Linked DNA regions of Homo sapiens. The protein of the gene in region 2 interacts with the protein of the main gene of each other region in a biochemical or structural test. Each region holds a gene or a part of one and is shown on either strand. Other genes may lie near its edges.

Evidence for each region.
Region 1: the proteins of CAV2 (region 2) and RASA1 form a complex in vitro, tested with the Homo sapiens proteins (one study listed by BioGRID).
Region 3: the proteins of CAV2 (region 2) and NCK1 form a complex in vitro, tested with the Homo sapiens proteins (one study listed by BioGRID).

The regions. Positions count from the first base shown.
Region 1 is NC_000005.10:87,270,155-87,280,757, forward strand, and holds part of RASA1 (ras GTPase-activating protein 1), read left to right. Parts: intron 1-10,603. UniProt on the Homo sapiens protein: Inhibitory regulator of the Ras-cyclic AMP pathway. Stimulates the GTPase of normal but not oncogenic Ras p21; this stimulation may be further increased in the presence of NCK1.
Region 2 is NC_000007.14:116,493,704-116,504,451, forward strand, and holds the start of CAV2 (caveolin-2), read left to right. Parts: upstream 1-6,034; 5' UTR 6,035-6,078; coding exon 6,079-6,228; intron 6,229-6,342; exon of another isoform or gene 6,343-6,556; coding exon 6,557-6,744; intron 6,745-10,748. UniProt on the Homo sapiens protein: May act as a scaffolding protein within caveolar membranes. Interacts directly with G-protein alpha subunits and can functionally regulate their activity.
Region 3 is NC_000003.12:136,857,225-136,867,628, reverse strand, and holds the start of NCK1 (SH2/SH3 adapter protein NCK1), read right to left. Parts: upstream 5,422-10,404; 5' UTR 5,276-5,421; intron 5,181-5,275; exon of another isoform or gene 4,878-5,180; intron 4,484-4,877; exon of another isoform or gene 4,460-4,483; intron 4,318-4,459; exon of another isoform or gene 4,196-4,317; intron 1-4,195. UniProt on the Homo sapiens protein: Adapter protein which associates with tyrosine-phosphorylated growth factor receptors, such as KDR and PDGFRB, or their cellular substrates. Maintains low levels of EIF2S1 phosphorylation by promoting its dephosphorylation by PP1.

The DNA.
Region 1 (10,603 bases), on a different chromosome or scaffold from region 2:
TCGCTTGAACCCAGGAGGCGGAGGTTGCAGTGAGCCGAGATCGTGCCGCTGCACTCCAGCCTGGGTGACAGAGCGAGACTCTGTCTCAAAAAAAAAAAAAAAAGAATTTTGACAACTTTGTTGAATATCAAGAAAAAAAGATTTGGTTCATATGTTGACAGTCACTCTGGACAATTCAGAGGTTTTTTTTTTTTTCCTTCCCCCCACCCCAGAGATGGAGTCTCGCCTTGTTGCCCAGGCTGGAGTGCAGTGGCGTGATCTCGGCTCACTGCAACCTCCGCCTCCCGGGTTCAAGAGATTCTCCTGCTTCAGCCTCTCTAGTAGCTGGGATTACAGGCGCATGCCACCATGTCTGGCTAATTTTTGTATTTTTAATAGAGACGAAATTTCGCCATATGGCCAAACTGATGTCGAACTCCTGACCTCAGGTGATCCGCCGGCCTCAGCCTCCCAAAGTGGTGGGATTACAGCCGTAAGCCACGGTGCCCGGCCTTTTTTTTTTTTTTTTTTTTTTTTTTTTTTTTTTTTTGGATAAGCTTCTTTGGAGCATTTAGAAAGTTCTGAAACTAATTAGGAAAAGATTCTGTTACCCTAATCCATTTTTGACTTAAGGCTACATCTTTTGATACTTAAAGGGGAAAAGTAAAGTTAGTCATATTTATGCCAGCCAACGGGATGTAGTATTCCACTTTTTATATTCCTCAATAAAGGATTCAAGTCTTTCGTCAGAGTTTGGTTCATATTTTAATGTCTTTGTAATGCAGAGTCCCTGGGAGTATTCTGGGAGTGTTAATTCCAATTTTGCTGGGCGCGGTGGCTCACGCCTGTAATCCCAGCACTTCGGGAGGCCGAGGCGGGTGGATCACCTGAAGTCCGGAGTTTGAGACCAGCCTGACCGAGATGGAGAAACCCCGTCTCTACTAAAAATACGAAATTAGCCTGGCGTGGTGGCGGGTGCCTGTAATCCCAGCTTCTTAGGAGGCTGAGGCAGGAGAATCGCTTGAACCCGGGAGGCGAAGGTTGCAGTGAGCCGAGATCCTGCCATTGCACTCCAGCCTGGGCAATAAGAGCTTAACCCCGTCTCAAAACAAACAAACAAACAAAAAAACAATATTACAGCACTGCTTTTGAAAAAAATAGTTCAATTTTTATTAAATGCTAATAGCATGCTTGGTACAATGGTTATGAAAAACAATGCAACTTTTCATACTGAAAGAATCTAGTCTTATGCTAGTTTATAACTAAATTAGGTATATTTAGGATATTGTAGTTAAAAAAAACTGTTTTTAGTAGACTTCTTTTTTTTTTTTTTTTTTTTTTTTTTTTTTTTGAGAGATGGAGTTTCGCTGTTTCGCCCAGGCTGGAGTGAAGTGGCGTGTTTTCGGCTCACTGCAAGCTCCGCCCCGCCCCTCCCCGCCTTCAGGTTCAAGCGATTCTCCTGCCTCAGCCTCCTGAGTACCTAGGATTACAGGTGCCCGCAACCAGGCCTGGCTAATTTTCATATTTTTAGTAGAGACAGGGTTTTGCCATGTTGGCCAGGCTGGTCTCGAACTCTGACCTCAGGTGATCCACTTGCCTCCCGAAGTGCTGGGATTACAGGTGTGAGCCACCGCGCCTGGCCCAATAGACTGTTTTTTAGAGTAGTTTTAGGTTCTCAGCAAAATTGAGGGGAAAATACAGGGTGTTCCCATTAAATTTTTAGTAATAAACACGATTGGGCTGGGGGTGGTGCTTCACGCCTCTAATCCCAGCAATTTGGGAGGCCAAGGCGAGTGGATCACTTGAGGTCAGAGTTCGAGACTAGCTTGGCCAACACGGTGAAACCCCGTCTCTACTAAAAAAAAAAAATCAGCCGGTCGTGTTGGCGGGCGCCTGTAATCCCAGCTACTCTGGAGGTTGAGGCAGAATTGCTTGAACCAGGGAGGGGGCGGTTGCAGTGAGCCGAGATCTGCCGTTGCACTCTAGCCTGGGCAGCAAGAACGAAACCCTGTCTAAAAAAAAAAAAAACACCATGATTGAGTACTTATGAAAAATTGTGAGAAATTCATTGTGTGGGATTTTCACCATTACTACATGTATTTGGAAATAAAAATTGTATGACTATGTATATGAAACTTGTTCATGTTCTAAAAAATACCCTCCATTTATAATATGTTTTTAAAATTTGCCACTGAGAAGTACAAATTTCCTTCTTATTTCATCTTAGTTATCAACCCAGAGTCACTGGAGGCAATGCAGTGTAGTGGTTAAGCGTGCAGATTCTGAAGTTAGACAAGATTTGGGTTGGAATCCTGACTCTGCCACTTACTAGCTGGGTATTCTTGGAAAGGTCAGTTTCCCCATCCGTAAAATGGGGATAGGAATGGTACCTTCCTCATATGATTGTTTTTTTTTTTTTAAGATTTAATGAATACCTTGATGTATTCGTCACAGTACTTGGGCATAGTAAGTGTTCGATAAATACGTAGTCCCCTGTGCCCATAACTGTAATATTTTACTAGCACTAAATTGTCTACTAATTCTTTTGGTTAGAGAATCTCCCTTGTTAAATGACTATTTTACAGAATGTTTTGAACTCCAAATCAAGCCTACCACGATTAATTATATTAAGAATTTTATTTTAACTTTATAAGGGCTTCTAGCAGTAGGTTAAGCAATTTTAGAGGTGAAATTCAAGTGTTCTCTATAAATTCCTATTCCTGAATGTAGATATTCATATTTTTAAGTGGAAGGAAAAGCCTTAAAGACATTTTCAAATAATATTTATCTTTTGTAAAAGTATTGAAGAAATGTTGGACTAAATACTGACTATGAGTAACTGGTCCCCTTAGTTATGGATAGCATGGTATTAAGGGGGTTTAGGTCACAGGATTGAGTCCACAAGTGGCTTGTTACTCGAGTGTTCCATGGTCAGGAAGTTAGTTCAACTTTGTTCCCAGTTTTGTGCTATTGATCACAAAAGAGTCAAATGACAATATGTAGATACACCAGTGCAAATAAATTAACACTATTAATTAGTATTTTGTACCTTGTTTTTCTGTGTACGTGGTGAATCATTAGTCTCATTTTTATTACTGAGCATTTTCATTAGTTTGGTTGAGGCTGGAAATGTTTATGTAATTTGTACTATTTATTTGAATATTTTTGAAAGTTTTGAGAAAATTATAAAAATAAAAAAAATTCTTCCTCTCTATTTCTCTACTATAAAAGTTTCTATATCTAAAACTGTTAACAGATTTCTTTTTCGAGAGAGAAAAGGTTAAATTAAAGAAGTTTGTCACTAGTACTCCATAATTTTTTGGAGTTTCTTTTCATGGTTCTCATTTTTTTTCTTCTGCAGGGTGAGGGGCAGTGGTGGTAAAGGTATATTGTTTGTGTAGTGCACCATCAGTTATATGTAGAGATTTTTAACTGTGAGTCTGCAGTAGCAAGTGGCCATTGGTGAGAATCCAACCCACAGATATATACTGCTTGCCCTTAGAGTATTTGGAATATTTGATAATTGTCACCATTTAAGAATAGAGATTTCTTTTCTTTTTCTTTTTCTTTTTTTTTTTTTTTGAGATGGAGTCTTGCTCTGTTACCCAGGGTGGTGTGCAGTAGTGTGATCTTGGCTCACTGCAACCTCCGCCTCCCGGATTCAGGTGATTCTCCTGCCTCTGCCTCCCCAGTAGCCGGGGTTACAGGTACACACCACCATGCCTGGCTAATTTTTGTATTTTTAGTAGAGACGGGGTTTCACTCTGTTGGCCAGGCTGGTCTCGAACTCCTAACCTCAGGTGATCCGCCTGCCTTGGCCTCCCAAAGTGCTGGGATTACAGGCGTGAGCCACCTCGCGGCCAATAGGAAGATTTCATATTTAAGAAGTCTCAACTTCTAGCATCTCTAGAAAACCCACAGGACTTGGCTATACCTGGTGGCCATTCCTGCTTGAGACTAGATTGCCAGAGCTGAGTAGCGGTTGACCCTTTTAGGTGGGTACTGAGGTCTCCATTTGCAGTCTCCACCAGGTCTGCTTTGCCTTTGCTATTGCAGTATTTGCCTGGCATCTGGCCTGGATCTTATGCTGAACCTAATATTCAGACTTCTCAAGTCTGAAACTTTAAGGAAAAGAAAATAAGGAATGTAAATAGTACCTTTCTTTTTTAAAAAAATCATTTTACTGTCTCTACAAAAATAAAATCATTCTTATTAAGTCAAATAATTGGTGAAGGTTAATGTTAGAACATGTAGCATTCATTAACTTTGTCACTGATTGCATTATACATATGGGTGAGCCATTGTTTCTTAATAAAAATGGGGGTGAGACTTGCTAAGATTAGTTACGGACAATGATTGATGACCAGAACTCATATTTTTTACTGTATTTGTATAAGTAGCAGAGAAATATAGTAGGTGCTTCAAGGGTTGCAAGAGTAAAATGCCCCTTTTCTCAATGGGAGAAAAGGGAGTATTAGATCTAGTAGGAAATTAAGTAAACCAATTACTGTGATTCAGGCTAGGTTAAGATAAATATCACGAGTGAAGTATGAGCAAAGGTCATGAGGGTTAAAAGAAAAAGAAATTTGTGTAATTAGGATCAGTAAATTCTTTGAGGAAAAATAGCAGGTATGTTTTTCCTGCTACTTAATTTATTTTCTGAGCAAGAGGTTATTGGTTCTGATGCTCTTCGCTTAATGATTCTATCAGGAAAACATAATTATGAATTAGATGAGTTTAAACTTTTCACCCTTAGTGAAGAGTCTGGTCTACAGAACTTTTAGTTACCTGTGGTCTGGAGGGAAGTTGACGGTGATGTCTGTAGTGACTGAGGTACAGAGCACAGTTGAATGCTAGAATCGGTATGGATCATTGATTAGCCACTCTGGGGAAAACAGGCAAACATTACTGGCAAAGCTAAAAAGGACAGCCATAAATTAGGAAGGGAAAAGGAAAAACGAAGAGTAGACTTTCTGGTTGCTTTACTTCTCTCTCTTTACTGGCCATTGGTGAAATGAACAGAGTCCCTTTAAGAACACTTAAATACCCAGAAAAGTACCTTTTGGGAAGAAGATTTTTTATAGTGATTATTAACTATAACAATGGTTACCACTGACATTTTTTGTTGTTGTTGCTTACTGCCAAACAGGAACAGTTCTAATTGGTTTATTTGTATTGTTTTGGTTATCTATTGCTGCATAATAAAGCACTCCAAAACATAGTGGCTAAAACAATTGTGTATTTGCCCTTGATTCTAAAATTTGTGTATGGCTTTATGGTGACTTCTCCACATGTGATCTGTTGGCTATAATGTCCACTGTGGCTTCTTAACTCATAAATCTAGTGCCTCAACTGGGATGGCTGGAGCAGCTGGTAGATGGCTGGGCATTTCCCTCTCTCTTCCTACCCATGTCGTCTCTCCACTTGAAGAAGGTTGGCCTTCTTTTTTTTTTTCCCCCCTGAGATGGAGTCTTGCCCTGTCGCCCAGGCTGGAGTGCAGTGGTATGGCTCACTGCAACCTCCGCCTTCCGGGTTCAAGCATTTCTCCTGTCTCAGCCTCCCAAGTAGCTGGCATTACAGGTGCGTGCCACCACGTCCAGCTAATTTTTGTATTTTTCATGGAGATGGGGTTTCACCATGTTGGCCAGGCTGGTCTCGAACTCCTGACCTCGTGATCTGCCACCTTGGCCTCCCAAAGTGCTGCGATTACAGGCATGAGCCACTGTGCCCAGCCAGCTTGGCCTTCTTCATAGCATGGCAGCTATGGCAGTTCCGTGAAAGACCTTTCCAAGCCCTAGTGTGCCGGTATTTATCAAGCTTCTGTGTTCCTCATCCTTGCTAATGTTCCAATGGTGAGTGCTGGTCACATAACCCAGTGTGCATTAAATATGGGAGGGGACTATAAAATGGCATGAATACAGCAAGTTGAGCTTTCCTCAGGGCATCAAAGTAACAGTACCATGTGTATTACTTATTTTCATGTAATACGAGATAATAGAATACTAGTAGTGAGGGACAGGCTGGGAGATAGGACAAATACTTATGAGTTCTTCCTTCAGGCCCAGCAAGCTAAGTTGTCTTTTGTTAAATGAGTCAAATTTCTCCACAATAGATGTTGCTTTTTGGCTACCATTACCTTAATTTTAAACCAAAAATACTGAATACGGATGTTGTTTATTGTTTGAATATGCAGGTATTTCTGTGTTACCTTGAAATCACTGGCAGTACATTTCAGTTTTGTGCTGCGTTAAAAATTGTTGTTATTAGATACAACTTATTGATAACTATGTATGTCTTGTCACATCTCTACAGGATTTAGGGTATGATGATTTTAGGTGTTTTAGTGGTTATGTGATTTAGTGAGTAAAATAATGAACAGTATGGGGGACAAAAAGAAATATACAATTCTACAGTCTAGTTGGAAGATGAGGCATTACTGGTAGGGAAATAAGATGATAAAAGTAGTCTACAGATACGTTGTGCAGGTAAATTTTTCAAATTCAGAGGATAGTTGCCAAAGAGTGAAAGAATGAAAGTAAATGAAAGAATGATACTGAAATTTCATACCATAATTCTCTTGAAGGAAATTTCAGTATCATTCATTTAGGATTATTACAGTGAGAAAGTGTGATTAACTTTTGTAACATTTGTGTTTCAAATTGTAGTCAAGTTGTTATGTGTAACATAGAGTTTTAGTTACAGAGGGAAGCTTCTCTGCTTAGATACAGAAGTAGCCTTAGGTAGAGTGACTTGCTTCACTCCACCCTACACCCTAGCTAAGTTCATATAACTAGGTAGTGGTAGAACTGGGACAGAATCCGATTCTCATACTGTTTCACATATATTTAGATTTGAGTAATATTTATAATTCATTTTTTTTTAAATTTTAGAGAGGACTAGAAGCAAAGGCTCAGTATTTGCTAATCATTTGCTAGATGTCAGGTACTTTATATAGATTATCTTATTTAATTCTTACAATGATATAGTGAGAATGGGCATCATCCTCATTGTTGAGGAAACTGAGTGATAGAGCTGGAATTTTAATGTAAATACTATGCTTTTTATTTTGTCTTGCCCCTTTCCATTACGTAGAATGTACACACATATATGCACCCAGATAAAACTTAACGTACTTCAGGGCTGGCAGTAACTGGCATTTTGGACTTAATAGTTCCCCCCTGTCCCCCATAGTCATAGGTTGAAGCCTTAACCACCAATGTAACTGAATTTGGAGATACAGCCTTTAAAAGAGGTAATTAAGGTTAAATGAGGTCATAAGGGTGGCTGGTGAATCCTATAGGACGGGTACCTTTATAAGAAGAGGTACCAGGAGTATGAGTGCATCAAGAAAAGGTCATGTGAGGACATGGTGAGGAGGCCTTCATTTGTCAGCTAAGGAGAGAGGCCTGACCAGAAACCAAGCTTGCCAGCACTTTGATAGTTCAATTTCCAGCATGCAGAACTGTGAAAAAATAATTTCTGTTGTTTAAGCCACCCAGACTCTGGTATTTCGTCATAGCAGCCCAAACTGACTAATACATGGGTAACTCTACATCTTTAAAAATGGATTTGGATTATTTTGGAACAGATTAAATGCATGTCTGCTGCTTGAGAAATAAGGTCCTCATTCTTTTAATTTCTTTCACTGTGGGAGAGAAAATCTTGCCTTACTTTACCTCTTTCTTTGTTAGTCAGTGACCTTTATCTTTTTTGATTGTACCTCTGTTGAAAGATGGAAAGCATATTTAAATGCATGTCTGATTATTATAGTGTGGAAAGATCCTACACATGACCATGGTAGCCATGGAATATCCTATGGATAAGCTGTTACTCCAGCAAATTTTCTGTATTCAATGTGTGTTCATTGTTGTAACATTTTACTTTAAAAATTTCGCTAATACATCTGTCTCAAGCTAAGGGAAAGACTTAGAGATCTCCCTCACCTCTTTTAAGTGTTTTTTGTAGGAATAACTTGCTAAACTGGGTTCATATTAGACACTTGTGTAACGATAGACCGTATCTCACCTATATTCTTTTCTATCTAAATGTTGATTCATTTCTCTAATTTTTAAATCTTTTTATTTTGAGGTAATTGTAGATTCATATGCAGTTTTAAGAAATAAGACAGATGGGCCGGGCGCAGTGGCTCACTCCTGTAATCCCAGCACTTTGGGAGGCCGAGGTGGGTGGATCACAGGGTCAGGAGATCGAGACCATCCTGGCTAACACGGTGAAACCCCGTCTCTACTAAAAATACAAAAAAAAAAAAAAATTAGCTGGGCGTGGTGGTGGGTGCCTGCTACTCGGGAGGCTGAGACAGGAGAATGGCGTGAACCTGGGAGGCAGAGTTTGCAGTGAGCCGAGATCATGCCACTGCACTCCAGCCTGGGCGACAGAGCGAGACTCTGTCTCAAAAAAAAAGAAAAGAAAAAGTAATAAGTTAGAGATGTACTTGTTCATCCATTTTACCTCAGTGGTAACATCTTGCATAACTATAGTGCAGTATCAAAACCAGGACATTGACATCGCTGTAATCCACCTATTTTGTTCACATTTCACCAGTTTTACATATATTCATTTGTGTGTGTGCATGTATGTGTGTGTGATATATTTAGTATTTAGTTCTATGCAGTATTGTAACATGTAAATTTGTATAATCATTACCATACTAGAGATACAGAAGAGTTTCTTCACCACTAGAATCTCTCATGCTGTGTTTTATAACCAGAGTGTCTCCTTCCTCTTTCCTTATTCCCTGGTAACTGCTAATTTGTTCTTTTTTTTTTTTTTTTTTTTTTTTCCTGTGGTCATTTAAAGAAGATTATGCGGGCTGGGTGCAATGGCTCATTCCTGTAATCTCAGCACTTTGTGAGGCTGAGGCAGTTGGATCGCTTGAGCCCAGGAGTTCAAGACCAGCCTGGGCAACATGGCGAAACCTTGTCTCTACAAAAAAAACAAAAATTAGCTGTTCGTGGTGTTGCACACCATAGTCCCAGCTATTCAGGAGGCTGAGGTGGGAGGATCACCTGAGCCTATGAGGTTGAGGCTGCAGTGAGTTATGATTGTGCCATTGCACTCCAGCCTGGGTGACAGAATGATAACCTGCCTCAAAATGGAATCAAATAGTATGTAACCTTTTGGGATTGGCATTTGTCACTCAGCATAATTTGTCAAGTTCGTGTAAGTTGAAGTATCAATATTTTGCCCTTTTTTCATTGCTGAATAGTAGTCCATGGTGTAGATGTGCCACAGTTTGTTTAACCGTTCAGCCATTGGGGAACATTTGGGTCATTTCTAGTTTTGGGTATTATAAAAAAAAGCTGCTATAAACATTTGTATATATGTTTTTGTGTGAACATAAGTTTTCATTTCTGTCAGTTAAGTCCCCGAGAGTACAATTACTGGATTGTATGATAGTTGCATGTTCACTTTTATAAGAAATTGCCAGCATTTTCTATAATGGCTATATATTTTTACATTCTCACCAGCAATGTGTGAAAGATCCGGTTTCTCTGTGTCTTAACCAGCATTTGATGATATCATTTTTTATTTTAGCCTTTCTGTTTTTACTGATATCTCATTGTGATTTTGATTAACATTTTTCTAATGTCTAATTATATTAGTCAGGGTTCTCCAGAGAGAATCAATAAGATACATGCATATATAAAAGGGAGTTTATTAGGGAGAATTGGCTCATGCCATTACAAAGTCAAAATCCCACAATAGGTCATCTGCAAGCTAGCCAATGAAAAAAGCTGGTACCACATCCAAGTTGGAAAGCCTCAAAGCCAGGAAAGCTGACAGTCTGAGGCCAAAGGCCTGAGACCCCCAGGGAGGCTGCTAGCCTGAGTCCTGGAGTCCAGAGACCAAAGAACCTGGAGTTTGATGCCTGAGGGCAAAAGCAAAATATCCCTCACTAGAAGGGGATGGGGAACTCAGCACGCTGGCTCTGTTTCTCTTACTGCCTGCTTTGTTCTGGCAGCCGACTGCATTGGATGGTGCCCACCCAGAGTGGGTCTTACTCTCCTCATTCACTGACTCACATGCCAGTCTCTTCTGTAAACACCCTCACAGACACACCCAGAAACAATGCTTCACCAGCCATCAAGGCATCCCTCAGTCCAGTCAAGCTGACACCTAATATTAACCATCACAGTAATGATGTTGGAAAATCTTTTTCTTTCTTTCTTTTTTTTTTTGACAGTGTCTTGCTCTGTTGCCTAGGCTGGAATGCAGTGGCACAATAATGGCTCATTACAACTTCCACCTTCCAGGTTCAAGCGATTTTCCTGCCTCAGCCTCCCAAGTAGCTAGAATTACAGGCACCTGCCACCACGCCTGGCTAATTCTTGTATTTTTAGTAGAGACAGGGTTTCACCATGTTGGCCAGGCCGGTCCTGAACTCCTGACCTCAAGTGATCCACCTGCCTCAGCCTCCCAAAATGCTGGGATTACAAGCGTGAGCCACCTCGCCCAGCTTGAAAAATCTTTTCATGTGCTTTTTCCATCTGTATACCTTCTTTGGTGAAATGTCTGTGTCTTTGGCCCATTTTCAAATTGGATTTTTTTAAATTGTTGAGTTTCAAGAGGTTCAACCCATATTGTAACATGTGTCAGAATTTTC
Region 2 (10,748 bases):
AAAGTCACCTGATAGACACCAAAGCCATAATTTGCAAGATCCAGGTGGAAGGCATTTTGTACTTTTGTTCTTACTTTTATACTGGAAATATGCAATAAGGCTAAAATTCGTTTTTTAAAAAAAGACTTCCCATTTTTTTTCTCTTGGCTAATGTAGTAGATTAGCTATGTTATTTTCAAAAATTTGCATTAACTCTAAATAAAAAACAGAATAACATTTGTAAAAAGAAAAAAGATTAGAGAACACAAAGGCTTCAAACTGAGATACAATAAATTTTTTGTCCAAAATTAAATCCCAAATCAAGAAAACAACCTTTAGATCTGTTGTTTTAGCAACTAATAATCTGCTGTGCACATTTCAGTTGGTATTTGGAAAACATTTAACTCTGTAGCTTTGTAGAAATGATATTCCCACTTGAACATAGAGGAAATTGTACTTATTGAGAGTTTAACTCAAGAGTTAGTGCACAACAAAAGTTCATTAGTGCCCATTTCATGTTCTGGAAAGATAAAATATCAGCATCCTATAGAGATGTCTTATTTGTATATACAGCATTTCAGAAATCAATGGGATACTCAAAAGATTAAACAGGAACATCCTTTACTTATGGAACACAGGATAAAATAAATCTAAAATTAATTGTCATACATCGTTTTTGAATGAGAACCAAATGACCTATCCTACCACCTCTAATTGTGAATACAGGTTTTTCAAGAGTGTACCTTCTTCCTCATTTATTTCTAATTGCCAGGCATTGCCAAACAAAAGTTAATTCTGGAAATTCTTGTAAATGAAGAGAGGTTTTTGATCAGAGAAGGTGTTGTTTGAAACAGCCAGAAGATCCAGCTTGCAACAATTACGGACAAGCTACTGTGTCTTAATATCAAGCTAAAAATTCCCTGGTCCACTGATGCAAGACTTATTTTACTCAAATTGTGAACAAAAAGACAAGTGGTAAATTAGGAGGGAAAAAAGTGAAGCAACTTTTATTAAATACCATGCAACCATCTGGCACCACTCCGCAAAGTTGATTATTGACTAACTTTAATAGCAGACATTTTTGTCTATTCCTTTAAACATTTTGTGGAGGAAATGTCCTCTGTATTGGGGGGGGTGGGGGGACAGTTGGAGGTGGGGGGCAGATAGTGGTTGAGTGTGAGTTGGAGGGTAGAAGGAGGAAATTAAAAGATGCATTGATAAAGCAGTAGGGTACAGGAGTTATGCAAGCAATAGTTTATGTAAAGCCACAGAGAGAGTGGCTTATGCCAGAAACAGCAGGTCCTTCCAAATTTCTCAAGCTTTGTCCTTGCTAACAGTAAGCAAGCCTAGGAGGGGATGCTTGAAGAACCTGGTAAGCAACTGCCCGGCTCTCCCACTAACAAGTCCATGGATTTCTCAGTTAAGGTTACTTAAAATTGCAAAAGCTATTCACTTGCTGAAGATTGTCAAAAATCACTGAATTTTATAGCTTTAAGAGAGAATCTTACAGATCAAGAAGTCCCAAGCCTGTATTTTTCCAGATATAATCATTTAAACAATCCTAACCTTTGTGAGGAAAGTATAGGAGGCCAGGCAAGGTAGACAGAGCTTGAGGCCTTGGCAGTTGCTTCCTTTTGATCTCTAGGGGAAGGGGGTGGGGGTTAATATGTATTCATTAATTAATACCAACATTGTATTGAAAAAATTGCAATTAGTCAATGATAATGGGTTCTTCTGAACATTTTACATGACAAACAAATATTCTTAAGTTTAATTTCAAAAAGACGTGGAGTTTCTTTCTATTTTTTTTTTTAAGATGGGCCTTGCTCTGTGCCCTCAAACTCCAGTCTACAATCTCAAACTCCTGGGCTCAAGAAATCCTCTTGTAGTAGCTAGGACTACAGGCATCTCTCACTACACCTGGCTAGTTTTTTTTTTATTTTTTGTAGAGACTGGGTCTCACTATGTCTCCCTCCTCAGCCACCCAGAGAGCTGGGATTATAGGTGTAAGCCACTGTGCCAGGCCTAGCCCTGGAGTTTCTAATACATTGGTGATACAACTCTGAGATTTCTAAGCATGGATTTGTAAATGAAGAGCTGGAGCTTAATTTTTCTAATTCACACAGCACTGTTTCAACATTGTCTTATTCAGTGGTTCTCAGCCTGGGAAAGAAGGAGAAAGGTGATTTTGCCCCCCAGAGGACATTTGGCAACATTTGGAAACATTTTGGTTGTCATGACTGGGAGTGTTATAGGTATCTAGTGGATAGATGCCAAGGATGTTGCTAAACATCCTACAATGCACTGGACAGTCTCTCAAGGAAAAATGATCTGGCCCAAAATGCCAACAGGGTTGAGATTGAGAAACTCTGGTCTAATCTGAACACTCTGAATATTATTAAAACATATGGTGAGATCAAGAATTTATTACTGCATTTTCGTTAATACCAATTTGCTCAAAGGCAGTTTGAAAAACAGACCCTGACTAAAATTGCATGTGCGTTATACAGGGAAAAAAATATGACACATTTGTGATTTGAAAAGGAAAAAAAGCTGAAGGGAAAAAATTAGATATTTTTATTCATAAGAGCATTGCCATACAATTTTCAATGCTCCAGAAAAATAACCTTCTTCCATTGACACTGTGCTGAAAGAAGTGAGTAACAAAATGGTTATAAACTATCCTTCTCACAAATTCTAATCTATTATCAGACTGTTATTTCTAAAATATATTAATACACCATCTAAAAAACAGCCCTCTTATCAGAAGCTATGATACATAATAAGTCAGAAGATAAATGCACCAGTAGGAATTTATTATAATTTTTTTAATTTCTCTGGATTACAGGGCACGTAAACTCTGTAGGAGGTGCTTATTGGAGAGTAATTCTGTGATCCAGAAGACACTAGAATGTGTTCAGCCATTTAGCACCCACCCACCCCCTTTCTTTTCCCTTTCCTGGTAAATTTTCCTTTATGTTCATAAGGACAGATGCCATTGCTGTGGGAATCACTCTGGTTTAAGCCTCTTGAGAAAAACAGTAGCTAACTATATTAGTCCGTTCTCACACTGCTATAAAGAAATACCTGAGACTGGGTAATCTATAAAGAAAAGAGGTTTAGTTGGCTCACAGTTCCACTAGCTGTACAGGAAGCATTATGATGGCATCTGCTCAGCTTCTGGGGAGGCCTCAGGAAACTTACAATCATGGCGGAAGGTAAACAGGGAGTATCACCTCACGTGGCCACAGAAGGAGCCAAAGAAAGGTGAGGGGGAGGTGCCACACACTTTTGAAGGACGAGATCTAATGAGAACTCACTCACTATACAGTACCAACTGCGGGGTCGGGGGGCAGGGGTGGCAGTGGGGGTGGTTGCTAAACCATTCCTAAGAACTCTGCCCCCATGATCTAATCTCTACCTCCCACCAAGCCCCACCTCCAACACTGGGGATTACAGTTCCACATGAGATTCGGGCAGGGACACAAATCCAAGCCATATCACTAACCTTATCTAAATACTGGCCAATAGGATAAGCAAAATCATTTTTATAGCTTCCTTCAAAAAATCTTATGTATTAAAATGTTGAAATGTATAAGAATTTCATCAAAATAAGAACCTCACCAGATCTGACCCAAGGGAGAGAAGATTGTTCAATAAAAAATTACAAATGGATGAATAAATGAATCCTCTCCTTTCAAGTTCTGTGCTCCATACAACAAATCTAGATGGGTCTCATTTAGATGGGATTTAGAGACACCTTTCTTAAATACCTATCATTTTACGAATGAAGCTGTTGTCTAAAGAGTCCTCTTGGCCACTTCCTGAAAACAAATCAATTATTTGTGATAACTCTCAAATGTCCTAATAATCCCATGGAAAATGTAAATGTAATGAGGACCAAGAATTATAAGGTAAGAAGTGCTAATGTCAGATTTTTACCCACTACATAAGCCCACTCTTGTACTAGGGCAGTGACTTTCTTCTTTGGGTGAGACCTTGAAATCTGGGATTATAATTTTGAATTATAATTATAAAATGGTATTTGGCTGTAAATTATCTCCTTTTTTTTTCTGTTCCTCACAGTTGATATTATGGATTCCCATAAGGATTCATGTCTTCTATTCACTTTAATGAACAGTTGTTGGGCAACAATTCTAGAAGAGTTCCAATTCTCATCAGGAGAATGGACAAGGTGGAGAAGCAGAGAAAATGCAATGAGTAGAATGTCTAAGTCATCACTTTGGAATTGACTGAACATAAATAAAAATGAGAAAGATACGTAAAAAAGAAGGGAATGGGTAAGCAGGGTGATGTCTGGGAGAGGAGGGGCTCCATAGCCATGAGAGTCAACTCTGTAACACCCTATAGGGTTACAACACTGCCCTTCATATACTGAGGTAGCAGCAGGGAAACTTTTTAATTATTAGAAATATTGAACTTTGCCTCCCACCCCCAAACATTTTTCTCATTCAGTTCCTGTTCTTTTTTATTTCTGTAATTTTTACTGTTTCAAAAATGATCTTTTTTCTTTCGGAAGAAGCAATTCTTCAAATCCAGTTCACATAAGGGGATTTGATATGTTCAACAAGCTCCAAATACACTGTATCCAGCAATACCTACTACATGCCTACTTTGAGCTCTGAGCAACCTGCACCTCAAGCCTAGTTCTCATTGTTTTGCTTTTGGCAAATTTTCACTAAGTGCCCTTCCTCCCCAAACACACGTATATGTCTACCAGACCCTAAAGCCCTTTATGAACATGCAAACTCCTCCCTTCTGAAAACCTTTGCGTGAGTGGTCAGCAGGCTAATTCATCCATTGCAATGTGGCTTTGTGTTAGGGTTCTGTTTCCGTGCTGCCTGCAAGATAATCACAGATGTGACTGCATCTTAGAAGTTCCTGAATCTTTCAAGACAGTCTGGTTCACAAGAAAATTAAAAGGTGGAGGTCGGGCGCGGTGGCTCACGCCTGCAATCCCAGCACTTTGGGAGGCCGAGGCGGGCGGATCACCTGAGGTTGGGAGTTCGAAACCAGCCTGACCAACATGGGGAAACCCCGTCTCTGCTAAAAATACAAAATTAGCCAGGCGTGGTGGTGCATGCCTGTAATCCCAGCTACTCGGGAGGCTGAGGCAGGAGAATCGCTTGAACCCGGGAGGCAGAGGTTGCGATGAGCCGAGATCGTGCCATTGCACTCCAGCCTGGGCAACAAGAGCGAAACTCTGCCACACACACACAAACACACACACACACACACACACGGTGTAGTTTAGGAAGTAAAAAAAAAAAAAAAAAAAAAATCAGATCTCCCCTCACACCTCAGATCTGAAGGCACAAACTCTAGGGCCAGGGCGTTCGCCTACCCAACTCCACATGCACTTGCAGGTCACCTAGCACTCAGGTACCTAGCACTCAGGTACATTGTGGCTCCTTACCTCTCACGACAGCAGCAACAACGTTGATTGGAAGTTTATCACTGTGTGTTACGGGCCATGGGCCATGTGTGTTAGAATTTTATGTGAAATTAACATTTAATTCTCACGGACACCCCTGAAACAGATGCCACAGCCCCCATTTTGCCAACGAGGCAGCTGAGGTTCCCAGAGGCTCAATACCAGCACCATGAGCCGCAGCACGCAAGGCAAACACAGCCGGAGGTGAGCACATACCTGCTTCGCACCCCATGCGCCTAACCACAAGGTTCCCTCCCTCCAGGAAGGCCGTTGTCTTCCCTGGGACGACTTGCCAGCTCTGAGGCATGACAGTACGGGCCCCCAGAAGGGTGACCAGGAGGCCCTCCTCGTCCCAGCTGCCGGCGTCGCCGCCCACTGCAGGGCCCGGGCTGTGACTCGTGGGGACGGTTCCCTGCGCCCCGGCGGGGGAGGTGGGCGGGGAGGGGCGGCGGGGCGCCGGGGCGGGGCTCGGGACGGCCGGGCTGGGAGCTGGAGCCCACAGCGGGAAGCGGCCGCCGCCCGGGCCTCGCAGGGCTAGGCGAGGCGAGGGGGGGCGGGGCCGGGCGCTACGGGAAGGGGAGGCCGCGCGGACCGGGAGCCGCACCGCGCCAGCCGGGCTGCAGCGGCCGCGCACCAAGGCTGCGATGGGGCTGGAGACGGAGAAGGCGGACGTACAGCTCTTCATGGACGACGACTCCTACAGCCACCACAGCGGCCTCGAGTACGCCGACCCCGAGAAGTTCGCGGACTCGGACCAGGACCGGGATCCCCACCGGCTCAACTCGCATCTCAAGGTGAAGCCCGGGGCGGGCGGGCCCAAGTCCCCGCTGAGGCCGGGAGGTGCGGGCGCCCCTCAGCCCCGCCCTAACCCGTCCCACCATTGCTACCGGGTCGGCCCCGCAGGGTCTGAGACCCGCACCCTTCCCCGGTCCCACCCGTCACCAGGCCGCCCGCGTAGCCAGGAATTCTTAGCCAGGTTCCTGTGCGCCCACCGTGACCCTAAGAGAAGAGGCGGACGCCCTGGCACGTCCTTCCCTCCTGCTTCCCCCGCCCAAAGCGCTCCCGGTTCCCGGGGCGTCAGGTTGGCTGACAGTTCGGGGTCCCTGCGTCCTGTCTCCTCAGCTGGGCTTCGAGGATGTGATCGCAGAGCCGGTGACTACGCACTCCTTTGACAAAGTGTGGATCTGCAGCCATGCCCTCTTTGAAATCAGCAAATACGTAATGTACAAGTTCCTGACGGTGTTCCTGGCCATTCCCCTGGCCTTCATTGCGGGAATTCTCTTTGCCACCCTCAGCTGTCTGCACATCTGGTGAGACGGGGCACACCGGGTGGACCGGCTTTCTGAAACATGGGCATATTCTCCGCCACCTGCCCCCTACTCTCCTCTTATCCCAGGCCGGCGTCAGGAGGAGGAACGCGCATCAGTTCCCAAGCAGTAGGAAGAACTGGAAGGCCTTGAAAGGCAATGCGCTTCCTTTAGAATAACAGTTTGGGCTTGGAGTTTCAACAGGAGAAAGAATGTCGGTCTTTCCTGGGGTGTGATTTTCCTTGCATACATAAGGCTGGGCTGAGTGTGGAGGCGGGTACCTGGAAGCCACACTTCTTACCACAGGCTGCTCTCGGGGCCCTGTTGTGACTCGTACCTGCGGTTCTGGGCAGGACTCTTCTTTCTTTCATTGCCTTTTATTCAGTCACTGCCTGTGCTTGGGGTAAAACAAAAGTGATCTCTGAGCAGAATGCCGCTGACAGTAGAATTGGATGAGGATGTCAGACCTGGTTAAGCAGTAGTGTGGAGGGGCTGCTTCAACTTTGCCCCTGGCAGATGGCAAGGATGGGACCCAGAGGAAAGGGAGGTGTGTGCAGTTAAGGCGAGGGTCCCCCCCAGTACAAACGAATGAAAACTCCAGCTGCGGGATAATGAATGAGAAGGCCTCCAAATTACTTTTTCACTGATGAAACACAAATGGAAGTGGCATATAATTAAAGGGGAAAGAAATATGGAAGCCCACTGTATATTGATAGGATATTTTGAGTAACTCTATTCATACTCAAAATGTGTCCTAAACTGTAGAGAACTTTCTTAAGCATCTTTTAAATTTTTTATGGAAAATGTCATATTTTACCAATAAATGTTGTTGTGTTAGAAAATATCCACTTTAATCTGAGAGGAAGAATATTCAGATCATCCCCAGTATCACAACAGTTGTCACGCTAGTGCTTCAGGTTAGTCCTGGTGAAAGGTATAACCCAAGGTACCTCCGTGTCTTTCTTACACCTTTTATGATATTGCCACACCCTGATAAATACTCGGTGTTCATTGTTAGAAGTTACCAATTTATCCTTTATTTCTCTATACCACCTGAATCTTAATTTATTTAGTCAGTTAGCTAGCTAGTTAGTTCAACAAACTTTAAATTGATTGAGTGCTTAGTTTGTGCTGGGCACTGGGCCAGGATGAATGAGAGATAGGGTCTGCCTTCAGCTTACTCACAGCCTTATCAGGGCAGCTGGCTAGGTACAGAGATGGACGCTGAGAAAACACAGTCAACTGACAAAGAGGGAGGAACAGACAAGGCTTTGAAGAGTGAAAGGAGTCGAAAAAGACTTTGAAAGGATAAATGAAAATTCACCAAATACGTAAAGGATACACAAAGAACACCAATTTAATTTTATCACTAAAGGTTGTAAACAATTAAACTATGTTGAAGGTGCCAAGATTGCCAGGGAAATGAAAATGTTGCCTTAGTACATGATCAGCTTCATGAAGGTCAAATGGATAGTTATATTCTGACATTTGCACTTGAATTTTTTTTAAGATCCCTGAGTTGGCACATAAGATTTGGGATTCCCAATTAACTAAAACTAATCATCTAACCTCTATGTCAGTTTTCTCACTTTCAAAACTGTGAAAAACTGAGTGACCGCATAGCATATTGTGAAATGCTGACTATGAAGCTATTTGGAAATGTGAAGTACCATATTTATAGTCAACAAAGCTAGGCTTCCCAAAGCTTTTGTGAAAGAATTTGAAAAAAAAAAGTTTCTCATTTACTAAGTGGTGGAAAGATATAAGTAAAACTACAATTAACCAAGCAATGCCTCTCTCCAGCTGGCTCTTCTGAGAATGGGAGGTGTTTTTGTATAGTGCTTCAATTGGTGAATCATCAATGCACCTTTTTTTAGCCACATAAAATGTATTATTTAATATTATTTAACTTCAGCTTGTTTTTTTAACTATATTTATGTGGGGCATTAATATTTAACTGTAAAACATTTGTCACCAGGCAGCTGTGATTGCAAGTAGAGGAGTAATTTCAAACAAGAATGCTTAAAAGTTAGCTATGCCTTGATAAAATAGGTTTATCATTAATAGATTGCATTCCCATGACATGATAAGACCAGATCAAGGACAGACCTTACAGAATTGCAAACCCATTTGGGCAAGCTTTTTTTGTTTTGTTTTCTTTTTATATATATTTTTTAAAGCAGGGGCTTGTGTATTGTTTTTACCAAAAAGTTAGTGGTGACCAAAGCTAGGAAAATATGCAGTAGTGGAACTTTGAACCATGTCACAATATTAAAACAGGTCAGATTTTAGATCCTTTAAACAAACAATCAACAACAATAAAACACAGAAGTCTGGTGGTGTTGGATCCTAGACCAGAAGTACGGGCCATTAGGAATCAGTGAATTAGTTGGATTCCATACTACAGTCAGACAGAGATAGCTGCTGTTTGTTAAGCACAGGTTATTGGTCATAAGTGGATCATAACCAAAGAAATGTGGCTGGAGCACCCATATCCCTTATTTTTGCTGGAATGCAAAGCAAACAAATGCCCAACTGATGGAAATGCGATAGTAGCAATCTCATTTCTAGAAGACAGTTTTCATACAGTAAATTGCTATGAATGCAGTCTGCATGACTCTACAATTACTACAACACTAAATAAAAGTCTCTATCCTATGGCCTTATTATCCAAGGATATATATTATCCAAGGAATATATAACCTTACATATATTAATATATATAATATATATATATTATAAGATTTACTTAAGAAGTATTGGCCACATTCAGCCTCAACCAAATTTTGGGTCAATCAGAACTGCCTGGAGTTTCAGAAGCTAAACTATTTGTGATGTTGAGAACCCAACTTAAGTTTGATGTCGGAGGATCATTAGATTCTCTGCTCCAAAATGAGGGAACACAAGTAAACAAAAATAAAATCCAAATGAGTTAACAACACCCTATAAACTGAACTCCTCGAATGTGGGTAACTGCTTTGCTGAACAAGAAGATTCACTTTTGACATGTGCTAAATTCCCTTTTAGGACATGGAGATCTAAGGAGTCACGGAGATAGAAAATTTGTTAGCCTAAGGAAGAATAGAAAGTACATTGTATTCTGGCTGGGAGCAGTGGCTCTCGCCTGTAATCCCAGCACTTTGGGAGGCCAAGCTGGGCAGATCACTTGAGGTCAGGAGTTCAAGAACAGCCTGGCCAACATGGTGAAACTCTGTCTCTACTAAAAATACAAAAATTAGCCAAGCATAGTAGCAAGTGCCCATGATCCCAGCTACTCAGGGAGGCTGAGGCAGGAGAATCACTCGAACCCGGGAGGCGAAGGTTGCAGTGAGCCGAGATCACTTCACTGCTCTCCAGCCTGGGCAATAGAGTGAGAACCTGAAAAGAAAGAAGGAAGGGAAGGGAAGAGGAGGGGAGGGGAGAAGAAAGAGAGAAAGAAAGAGAGGGAGGGAGGGAGGGAGGGAGGGAGGAAGGAAGGAAGGGAGGGAGGGAGGGAGGGAGGAAGACAGAAAGAAAAAGAGAAAGAAGGAAAGAAAGAAAGAAAAGAAGAAAGAAAAAAGAAAAGAAAGGAAAGAAAGAAAGAAAGAGAAAGAAAAAGAAAGAAAGAGAAAGAAAGAAAGAAGGAAGGAATTCTAAGTGAAGTGGATTTGGTTAGGAAACTTTCTGATCTAAACTTCAGCCTTTTAATAGGCCAATTTGAGGTCATCTTGTTATAGTTATTTTCATTATATATTCTGCCTTCAAAATAGGTCTATTTATTATACATTATAATGACAGCATCATACAGGCATTTCAGGGGTACATAATAAATGTCAATCCTCATAGCCAGTTCTGAGAGATCTCCTGGTGTCACTTTAATTTGTAGCAACATGCCCAAGACCACATATCAAGTGAGAAATATAATAGAATAATAAGTCTAAAGTTGCCATCATTGAGGTTTCTATTCAGCTATTTATCTCTGAAACACTTAGTAATTAATTTTCTTATTATATAAAAGTGTTTCATGT
Region 3 (10,404 bases), on a different chromosome or scaffold from region 2:
ATTCTATGATTCAAGTCCACACAACATTAAAAACCAAGGGAATACTAAAATAATAAGGGGTATGGGTTTAAAGGAAAGCAACAGACCAGGCACAGTGGCTCACCCCTATAATCCCAGCACGTTGAGAAGCCAAGGTGGGAGGATCGTTTGAGGCCAGGAATTCAAAACCAGTCTGAACAACACAGTGAGACCCTATCTCTACAAAAAAAAAAAAAAAAAAAAATTAGCCAGACATTGATGCACACCTGTAATCCTGGCCTTTGGGAGGTTCAAGTTACAATGAGGAGCTGTGATCAGGCCACTGTACTCCAGCCTGAGCAACAGAGCGAGATCCTGTCAAAAAAGAAAGAAGAAAGAAAGAAAGAGAGAGAGAGACAGACGGACGGACAGACGGATGGATGGACGGAAGGAAGGAAGGAAGGAAGGGAAAAGAAAGAAAAGAAAGAAAGAAGGAAGGAAGGAAGGAAGGAAGGAAGGAAGGAAGGAAGGAAGGAAGGAAAGAAAGAAACAAAGAAAGAAAGAAAGAAAGAAAGAAAGAAAGAAAGAAAGAAAGAAAGAAAGAAAGAAAGAAAGAAAGAAAAGCAAGCAACATAGGGAACAGGAAAAACATTTGGAAGACTGCACCAAAGGACCAAAAGCGAAAATTCAACAAATTTTACTTCATTTGCTACTTGGTAATTTAGGAGAAAAAAAAAATTTTAAAGACTAGGCAAACTGGACGGGCACAGTGGCTCACGCCTGTAATCCCAACACTTTGGGAAGCCGACGCATGTGGATCACCTGAGGTCGGGAGTTCAAGACCAGCCTGGCCAACATGGTGAAACCCCATCTCTACTAAAAATACAAAATTAGCCAGGCGTGGTGGCATGCACCTGTAATCCTAGCTACTCGGAAGACTGACACAGGAGAATCACTTGAACCAAGGAGACGGAGGTTGCAGTGAGCCAAGATGGTGCCACTGCACTCCAGCCTGGGTGACAGAGTGAGACGCCTCAAAGAAAAAAAAAAAGAAGAAAGAAAGAGGCCAGGCACAGTGGCTCACACCTGTAATCCCAGCACTTTGGCAGGCTGAGATGTGTAGATCACCTGAAGTGAGGAGTTTAAGACTGGCCTGACCAACACGGAGAAACCCCGTCTCTACTAAAAATACAAAATTAGCCAGGCATGGTGGCGCATGCCTGTAGTCCCAGCTACTAGGGAGGCTGAGGTAGGAGAATCGCTTGAACCCGGGAGGCAGAGGTTACGGGGAGCCGAGATCGCACCATTGCACTCCAGCCTGGGCAACAGAGCGAGACTCTGTCTCAAAAAAAAAAAAAGAAAGAAAGAAAGAAAAAGGAATGATACGAAGGTACAAAAATACAAAGAGTAAATAAGAATCAGAGATTGGTTTGGTTAGAGTGGACAGCTCCTATAAAGAAATAGTGCTGGCACTGATTAAAAAAAAAGAAAGAAATAGTGCTGGCCCCAGAAAAACAGGTTTGAGCAGACTGTTATTAGGCTATGAATTCTGAACTATACTCTGAAGATAACAGAGAGTTATCACTGGTTTCCGAAAAGTGAAGGATGTGTTTGAAGCATAATTCTAAGATTTAGGAAGACATACTAAGTAGAGAGAAAAATCAAGCAAAAAACCCAATTAAAGGCTAGTGAGTAGTTCAAAGATAAAAATGGCTGGCAAAAATCAGCCAATATTGTTACACGCATAGAGATAAAACCAAAGTTTGTGTCTGGGTAATTGAAAGCATGGTAATGTCACCAAAACAAAGTCAGCATATGGAATCAGTTTTGAAGGGAAGACTATAAATTCTATCTTCATTAGAGTTTAAGGTGAGGATCAGCCAGACATAAAGTTTCCTTAAATCTTTAAATGTCATATTTAGCCTTGTTGTCTTCCTAACATCACAGTATTTATAGAGAATTTGTTAACTGCTCAGTGATTTCAAAAGTTCCCTTCAATTTTACTTATTAATGAAATAATCATTTAATTTTCTAGTGCAGATAAAGAACATTTGGTATTTTTCTATATTATAAAGGTAAATTCTAAAAATTATTAAACCATGATTTTAAAAATGAACTGTATCTGTATTCATTAAGTCAAGTCTTCCTGACAAGTGATTTATAATAATCACATCAAATATACCTTCAGCTTTGAAAAACACATGGTGAAAAAGTAAAATAAGACAAAGTAAAAGTACAAAGCAATGAAAATGTAAAACTCTAGAAAATTTTTGAAAAATGAATATAGGCCAGCCACGGTGGCGCACACCTGTAATCTCAGCACTTTGGGAGGCGGAGGTGGGCAGATTGCTTGAGGTCAGGAGTTCGAGACCAGCCTTGCCAACATGGTGAAACTCCGTCTCTACTAAAAATACAGGCCGGGCGTGGTGGCTCATGCCTGTAATCCCAGCACTTTGGGAGGCCGAGGCAGGTGGATCACGAGGTCAGGAGTTCAAGACCAGCCTGGCCAAGATGGTGAAACCCTGCCTCTACTAAAAATACAAAAATTAGTCAGGCGTGGTGGCAGGCGCCTGTAATCCCAGCTACTGGGGAGGCTGAGGCAGAGAATTGCTTGAACCCGGCAGGCAGAGGTTGCAGTGAGCCAAGATCCCGCCACTGCACTCCAGCCTGGGCAACAGAGTGAGACTCCGTCTCAAAAAAAAAAACAAACAAAAGAAAAAGAAAAATATATATATATACAAAAAAATTAGCTAGGCATGGTGGCACACACCTGTAGTCCCAGCTACTTAGGAGGCCGAGGCACAAGAATCGATTGAACCCGGGAGGCAGAGGTTGCAGTGAGCCAAGATCGTGCCACTGCACTCCAGCCTGGGCAACAGAGACTCTGTCTCAAAAAAAAAAAAAAAAAAGAAAAGAAAAAAACCCAGAACCATGAAGTATCACTAAGTATCTCTTTTCTTTATTATTTTCCTTTTTAAATTTTTTTATATTTTCTTAATTTAGAGACAGGGTATCACTACATTGCTTAGGCTGATCTCAAACTCCTGGCCTCCAGCTATCCTCCCGCCTTGGCCTCCCAAGTGCTGGGATTACAGGCTTGAACTACCCCGCCTGGTCTCCCTCAGTATCTAACAAAACATTACACATAGGTTTTTTTTGTTTCTGTTTTTTTTTTGTGTGTGTGTGACGGAATCTTGCTCTGTTGCCAGGCTGGAGTGCAGTGGCGATCTTGGCTCACTGCAACCTCCGACTCCCGGGTTCATGCAATTCTCCTGCCTCAGACTCCCGAGTAGCTGGGATTACAGGTGCGTGCCACCACGCCCGGATAATTTTTGTATTTTCAGTAGAGACGCGGTTTCACCGTGTTGGCCAGGCTGGTCTCGATCTCCTGACCTCGTGATCCGCCTGCCTCGGCCTCCCAAAGTGCTGGGATTACAGGCGTGAGCCACCGAGCCCGGCCAACATTACACGTAGGTTTCAAATTTTATTTAGATGGACCTGAAAGCACTGCAGAAACCTGGACAAAGGATAATGCCTAGAAAAATAAATACACATTTTATTTATTTTTTTGAGACGGAGTCTCGCTCTGTCGCCCAGGCTGGAGTGCAGTGGCGCGATCTCGGCTCACTGCAAGCTCCGCCTCCCGGGTTCACGCCATTCTCCTGCCTCAGCCTCCCGAGTAGCTGGGACTATAGGCGCCCGCCACCACGCCCGGCTACTTTTTTGTATTTTTAGTAGAGACGGGGTTTCACCGTGTCTGCTAGGGTGGTTTCAATCTCCTGACCTCGTGATCCGCCCGCCTCAGCCTCCCAAAGTGCTGGGATTACAGGTTTGAGCTACCCCGCCTGGACTCCCTCAGTATCGAACAAAACATTACACGTAGGTTTCAAATTTTATTTAGATGGACCTGAAAGCACTGTCAAAACCTGGACAAAAGATAATGCCTAGAAAAATAAGTACACATTTTAAAATTTAATACATGAGCCAACAGCTGAGTAGATGTGAACACTCTGCAAACTATGTTTATGGATATTACAGCCAATTTCCACAGATCACAATTTTCCCAAAGAAGTCTCAGAGTTTGTGGTCAAGATGAAAAGAAAGCACCATTTATCAACCAGTGCATATTACTATCAAGTTGTGAATGGGATGCCTATTTAAGAATATCACAGACTCCACCCCCCACAAGAAAATTAAGTGTTTTAAAAAGAAAAGAACGAATATTATTGACAATTACCAAACAAAACTTTCTTCTTAGGTTATTTCTCCGTTTACTGTGTGACCTCGCCGAAGGCTGAGAGTCTAGGCACACTGGTTTCCAGGTGCTGAAGAAATCGTTATAGTTGGTTTGTCATACGTCTATCAAAGTAAAATTTTAAAAATGAGTACCTTTTGGCAACACCCGTTTTGGGAGGACATTGAGCTGCTTTGCTCCCTACCCAAAGAGGAGTTAGGAAATTCTCTTTAACCTAATTCTTTCCTAATTTCTAGGGCTTCTTACCTAATCTAACGTGCATAATTATTTTCAGGTGACTCCGGGTCCATCAGTTTGACACCGAGAGCGTTCCTACGGTTACGTCCTCACCCCTGAACAAAACCCAGCTTCCTGAGCTTCTAACGGCGAATTTAACTTGTATGTTAATACAGAAGAAAGGTTACAAAACCTATCGAAATGGTTTTTTGTTTTACCAAACATATTACAACTCAAGTCAAAAGTTCACAGCCCCAGCAACTCGCGTACGAATCTGAAGCAGGTCCAGACCATTAAAGTCACAGCCCCAGACTAGAAAACGGCCGGTGGGTGGGGGGAGGGGAGAGGGCGCGTCCCGAAGATGTCCACCCGCAGCACCGCGCAGGCTGACGCCTCCCCTCCTCTCGGGCTGGAGGTGAGAGCGCCCTTCCTCCTACCACGTCCCTACCTTCCCGGCCTCGGATTACGCCACAGCTGGCAAAAGGACTTTTTCATGAGAAAACAGACAAGTCAACCAGCGCGCCGCACACTCGACCTCCCAGGCTCGCACGGGCGGCCGCCCGGGCTCTCAGCCCGACACAGCGCTCCAGGGGCTGACAAGGAGGCCGCGGGGTCACGCTCCCTGGGGCAACGGCCCGAGGGTCTCGCGGAATCCCGGTGCAGAAGTCTGGACCCTCCGAGCAGCCTCCGCGCCCCCTCCGGCTCGGCTCCGAGCCTGCAGACGGCGCCCCCGGGGCTAACTCAGCGCGAGAAGAGGAAGCGACGCAGCGAGTAACAGGCTGTATGGACGGACAGCGGACTGAAGGGGGGTGTGTGTGTGTCTGCCTGCCAACAAGGCCGTCTCACCTTCCCGCTGCCGAGCCGGGCAGCTCCAGCTCACCTGAGGAGGGCTCCAGGACGCCACTGCGGCCGCCGTGATGGCCGTAACGGCACGAGGCCTGCGCTCCGCCGCCGCCGCGTAGCTCTTGGGAGAGAGGCGGGGCACGCGCGGTGGGCAGGCGGATCCGCGCGGGCAGGAAACCCACTCTGGACCCAATCTGATAGGTTCAGTCGCCCCCTTCCCCGGTCCCTGACGCGACAACGGTCTCTGCCGCACTGGGATTGGGCGGGCCCTCATGTCAATCAAGCGCCGTGCCTGATGTGGAGGGAGCGGAGGCTGCGCGGCGGAGAGTAGAGAGCTAGAGGGTGAGAAGCGCTGGGCCGGACCAGAACTGTCTTAGCTTTTCCCTCTGCGGCTGCTCTGGTTGGTTACTTTGAGCCTGCCTCCTCAGCGCCGCAGGAGAGACTTAACAGCAAAAATGACTGTGTCCTGAGTTCAGCCCCCACTGCTCTGGGAGCTTCCCCCTGGTTTCTGCACCTGAAGAATGTCATCCCAGCCGAAGGTTCTTAGGAGCGGGGAGCGACAAAGAAAAACAAAGAAAAGCAGACCTGAAAATTGGGACCTGGGAGAAATGTAAGACATGTGCTTAATTTGAGGCACAGACCAAAAGAAGCTGAGTCTGAGGGCCCTCTAAAAGTGTCCTCGTGCTTGGGCAGCTTACATTCTTGGCGGCAGTAGTGTTATGAAGAGGACCTTCGGAGCCAGGTCTGTCCATTCTTAGGGCTCCAGCCACTGGCTGAGGCATCAGTAAGTTGGTTCTTCCCCTCGCCGGTGCTGCAGGCCCCCTTCCCCGCCCCCGCGCCGTAACCTGCCTCTTTTTTTTTTTTTTTTGAAACGAGTTTCGCTCTGTCGCCAGGGTGGAGTGCAGTGGCACGATCTCGGCTCACTGCAACCTCCGCCTCCGGGTTCAAGCTATTCTCCTGCCTCAGCCTCCCGAGTAGCTGGGATTACAGGCATGTACCACCACGCCCAGCTAATGTTTTTGTATTTTTAGCAGTGACGGGGTTTCACCAGGATGGTCTCGATCTCTTGACCTCGTGATTCGCCAGCCTCGGCCTCCCAAAGTGCTGGGATTACAGGCGTGAGCCACCACGCCCAGCCGCCTCATCTCTTCTTAACCATCTTTGTGGCACAGTTTAGGATCGCTCCTCAGGGAAGCTTGCTCAGTTAGGTACCTTCCTTGGAGCACAGGTGTTTTCTCCATCCGAGCTATTGAAATGGTTTGCCTGTATGTCTACCTAGATTGTAAACTCCGTTGAATCAGTAACCATGTCTGTTCAGTTTCTCCCTAGGGCCTTGCAGTAGGGTAGATGGTCAGTAAATACTGTTTAAGGCATTAATACTTTTTATTTTAATCCTGGCCCTGGATATCAGCCTCAAAAGTTTGCAGTTTTCTGCATTTAACTTCAAAATTATTTACGTGATTGGTAATGCATGCATGTGGTTGGCCTGTGCTGTAATTTAGATGTTTGTTCCCCTAAACCTCCTGTTGAAATTTGATCCCCAATGTTGGAGGTGGGGACTAATGGGCAGTGTTGGGTCATGGAGGTGGTTCCTTCAGGAATAGATTAATGTCCTCCCTGGGGAGAGGGTAAATGAGTTCTCTTTATTTCCACCAGAGCTGGTTAAAAAGAACGTCGCACTTCCTTTCTTCTTTTGCGTCCTCTCTGGCCATGTAATCTCTGCACACACCAGCTCTCCTTTGCCTTCTGGCATGAGTAGAAGCAGTCTTAGGCTACCATCAGATGCAGATGCTCAGTCTTGAACTTTTCCAGACATCAGAACCATAAGCCGAAAAACCTTTTCTATTTCTAAATTATCCAGCTTTGGGTATTCCTTTCTAGCAACACTAAAGGGACTAAGACAGCCTGCCATATGTAGGATCACAAGGTCAAGCACAAATTTACCTATTTATGCTGTACTATCCTCAGGTTGACTGGGACAAGTAGACCATGAAACTGGGCAACAGCTACTCTATGTCTACATTCTGTTATTAGCATCCAAAGTGAATAATGGCGGTGAATTTTGAGTTTATTCTAAGGGTTTAAATAACTGCATATTTTATCATGACTGGTATGGACTGAATTGCATCCCCCCCAAAAATTCATACTGAAGCCCTCACTCCTAATGTGACTATATAAATGTTCCTTAACTTACAAAGGGGTTATGTTCCAATAAACCCACCATAAACTGAAAATACCTTAAGTTGAAAAGATCTTAAGTCAGAAATGCATTTAATGCTTCTAACCTACCAAACATCATAGCTTAGAGTAGCCTACCTAAAACATGCTCAGAATACTTACATTAGCTTTCAGTTAGGCAAAATCATCTAATACAAAGCTTATTTTTTAATAAAGTATTGAGTATTTCATGTAATCTACTAAATACTGAATGAAAAACTGGATGGTTTTATGGGTACTCAAAGTACAGATTCTAGAGTGCATATGGCTTTTGGACCATCATAAAGTCAAAAAAATCTTAAGTCAGGGACCATCTCTAGTTGGAGCTAGGCCTTTAGGGAGGTAATAAAAATTAAATTAGGTCATAAGGGTGGGGCCCTAATCCCATAAGATTAATGTCTTTATAGAAAGTGGCACCAGAGAGCTCTCTCCATTTGAGAACACAGCAAGCAGACAGACATCTGCAAGCCAGAGAGAGAGCCCTCACCCAAAACTGACCATGCTGGCACCCTCTTTTGGACCTCCCAACCTACATAACTTTGAAAAAATAAACTTCTGTTGTGTAAGCCACCCAATCTAGTATTTTATTATGGCAGCCCAAGCTAATACAATGGTTTTATTTGTTGATACATTTTATAAAGTTTACAGACTGAGATATTATATTCATTTTTGAAGAAACTTGTCCAGAGTTAAAACTGTTGCTGCAAAATCACCCATCAAACTGTTAGCACAGCGTGACTCAATTTTAATTCTAATTACATATTTAACATACGATGGAGGCAGAAGGTGTGAATATAAATACAACAGGTAAAATACAGAAATACAGTTCTTGCCTTCATGTAGCTTACCACCACCTTAAGTGGGGAAAATTAACCCAGCAAAAAGTATGCTGAAGTCATACATTTAGGGTTTTTGTTTGTTTGTTTGTTTTTTGAGATGGAGTCTCGCTTTTTTGCCCAGGTTGGAGTGCAGTGGCACCACCTCAGCTTATTGCAACCTCCACCTCCCGGGTTCAAGCAATTCTCCTGCCTCAGCCTCCCAAGTTGCTGGGACTACAGGCACACACCACCACACCTGGCTAATTTTTTGTATTTTTAGTAGAGACGGGGTTTCACAATGTTGGCCAGGCTTGTCTCAAACCCCTGACCTCAGGTGATCCACCCACCTCAGCCTCCCAAAGTGTTGGGATTACAGGCGTGAGCCACAGCACCCAGCTAGTTTATCCTCTTAATTTTCCTTCTTTAATCTTTCTCATCACTCATTCTTAACAGGAACTCTTTAAAAAAATTTAAGAAACCTCCAAAAATATATGCAAAAGAGGAGTCAAAGAAGAAAAATAAGCAAACAGCAATGAAAAAGGAAAGCATAGACTGGAAGGGCAGATAGGCAGAAAGGCATGTATGTAATTGCACTTAGAAGGGATGCAGTACATGTTTTAATGGGGTGGGAGCTGTCCCAGAGACTTCCTTTCACACAGTCTGTCTCCCCAGCTTCCAAATATAAACATGCACATGGCTGCTGCTTCCTCTCTTTCAGGGGAACTCAAACCAAAAACAGGAATCATCCTTGCTAATTAGTGCTGAGTGGATCAGGGACTAACCAGAATCAGGCAACAAGAAAATGTAAGTCAAAACTTATGATCAGCCCTGGCAACAGAGCTAGACCCTGTCTCTACAAAACAAAATTTTTTTTAATCAGCTGGGCATAGTGGCATGTGCCTGTAGTCCCAGCCACTCTGGAGGCTGAGGTGGGAGGATGGCTTGAGCCCAGGAATTTGAGGCTGCAATGAGCTATGATCACACCACATCTCAAAACAAAAACAAAACTTATCTAGGGACTACACGTGGAGCTTTGGATATGGGCAGCTAATCTGTCTATGATTAAAAACACGCAGGTGGCTTACTTTATTAATCCAAAATAAAAGAATTTGGGAACACAAGAAAGGGAAAAATGAGCCTCCATGTCAAGACCTTTCCCAGAAACCTGATAGCTTATAGTTAGAAATTGTTATAGACAGTCCAGTGCAAGGAGGACATTAAGCCACAGGGGAAAGGAGTTGTGTGGCCAGGTTAGTCAGGCAATTAACTAGAAAAAATCTGTCCACATAGAGGAGCCTGCATAATAAAAAGGTATTAAACGATAGTAGAATATTGCTAGAGCAGAAGATAGCTAGAAATATAATCAATAACCAGGTTATGGAAGTCAGGCACCTTAGAGTTTATCCTATAGGCAATGAGAAGCCATTCAAAGGGTTTTTGTTTTTGTTTTCAGCACTTTAAAGATGTCATTCTCGTTTTCCAGCCTCCATTATATCTGTGAGAAACTAGTTGTAATTCTTATCATTGTTTTCTTGTATGTCTTATGCCTTTTTCTATGAATGCTTTTAAGATTTTGTTTATATTTATCAAAAGTTAACACTGATGTTTCTAGGTGTCTTTTTCTATGAATGCTTATAAGATTTTCATTATATTTATCAAAAGTTACACTGTGATGTTTCATTACACTGTGATGTTTCATTACACTGTGATGTTTGTTTTGGTTTTGGTTTTGTATTTATCCTGCTTGGGGTTCATTTCATTCCCTGGGTCTGTGGATTGCTGGTTTCTCATTTTCTTTTCTTTTCTTTTTTTTTTTTTATCAAATTTGGAAGACTTTTGTCCAGTATTTCTTCAAATTTTTTTTTCTGTCCCATTCTGTTTCTCCTCTTCTTCTGGGACTACAATTACACTCATGCTAGACTTCTCAGTACTTAGTACAGGTCATTCAGGCTCTGTTCATTCTTTTTTCAGTTTGTATAATTTCTATTGAGAGCCACTGTCTAGTAATCCCTGAAAAAATCTAAATGTTGACATTTTCCCAAAGCACAGTACCCTGCTGATGGCTGTAGTTTCCTTTGGGGAAGGTTTAGAGATATG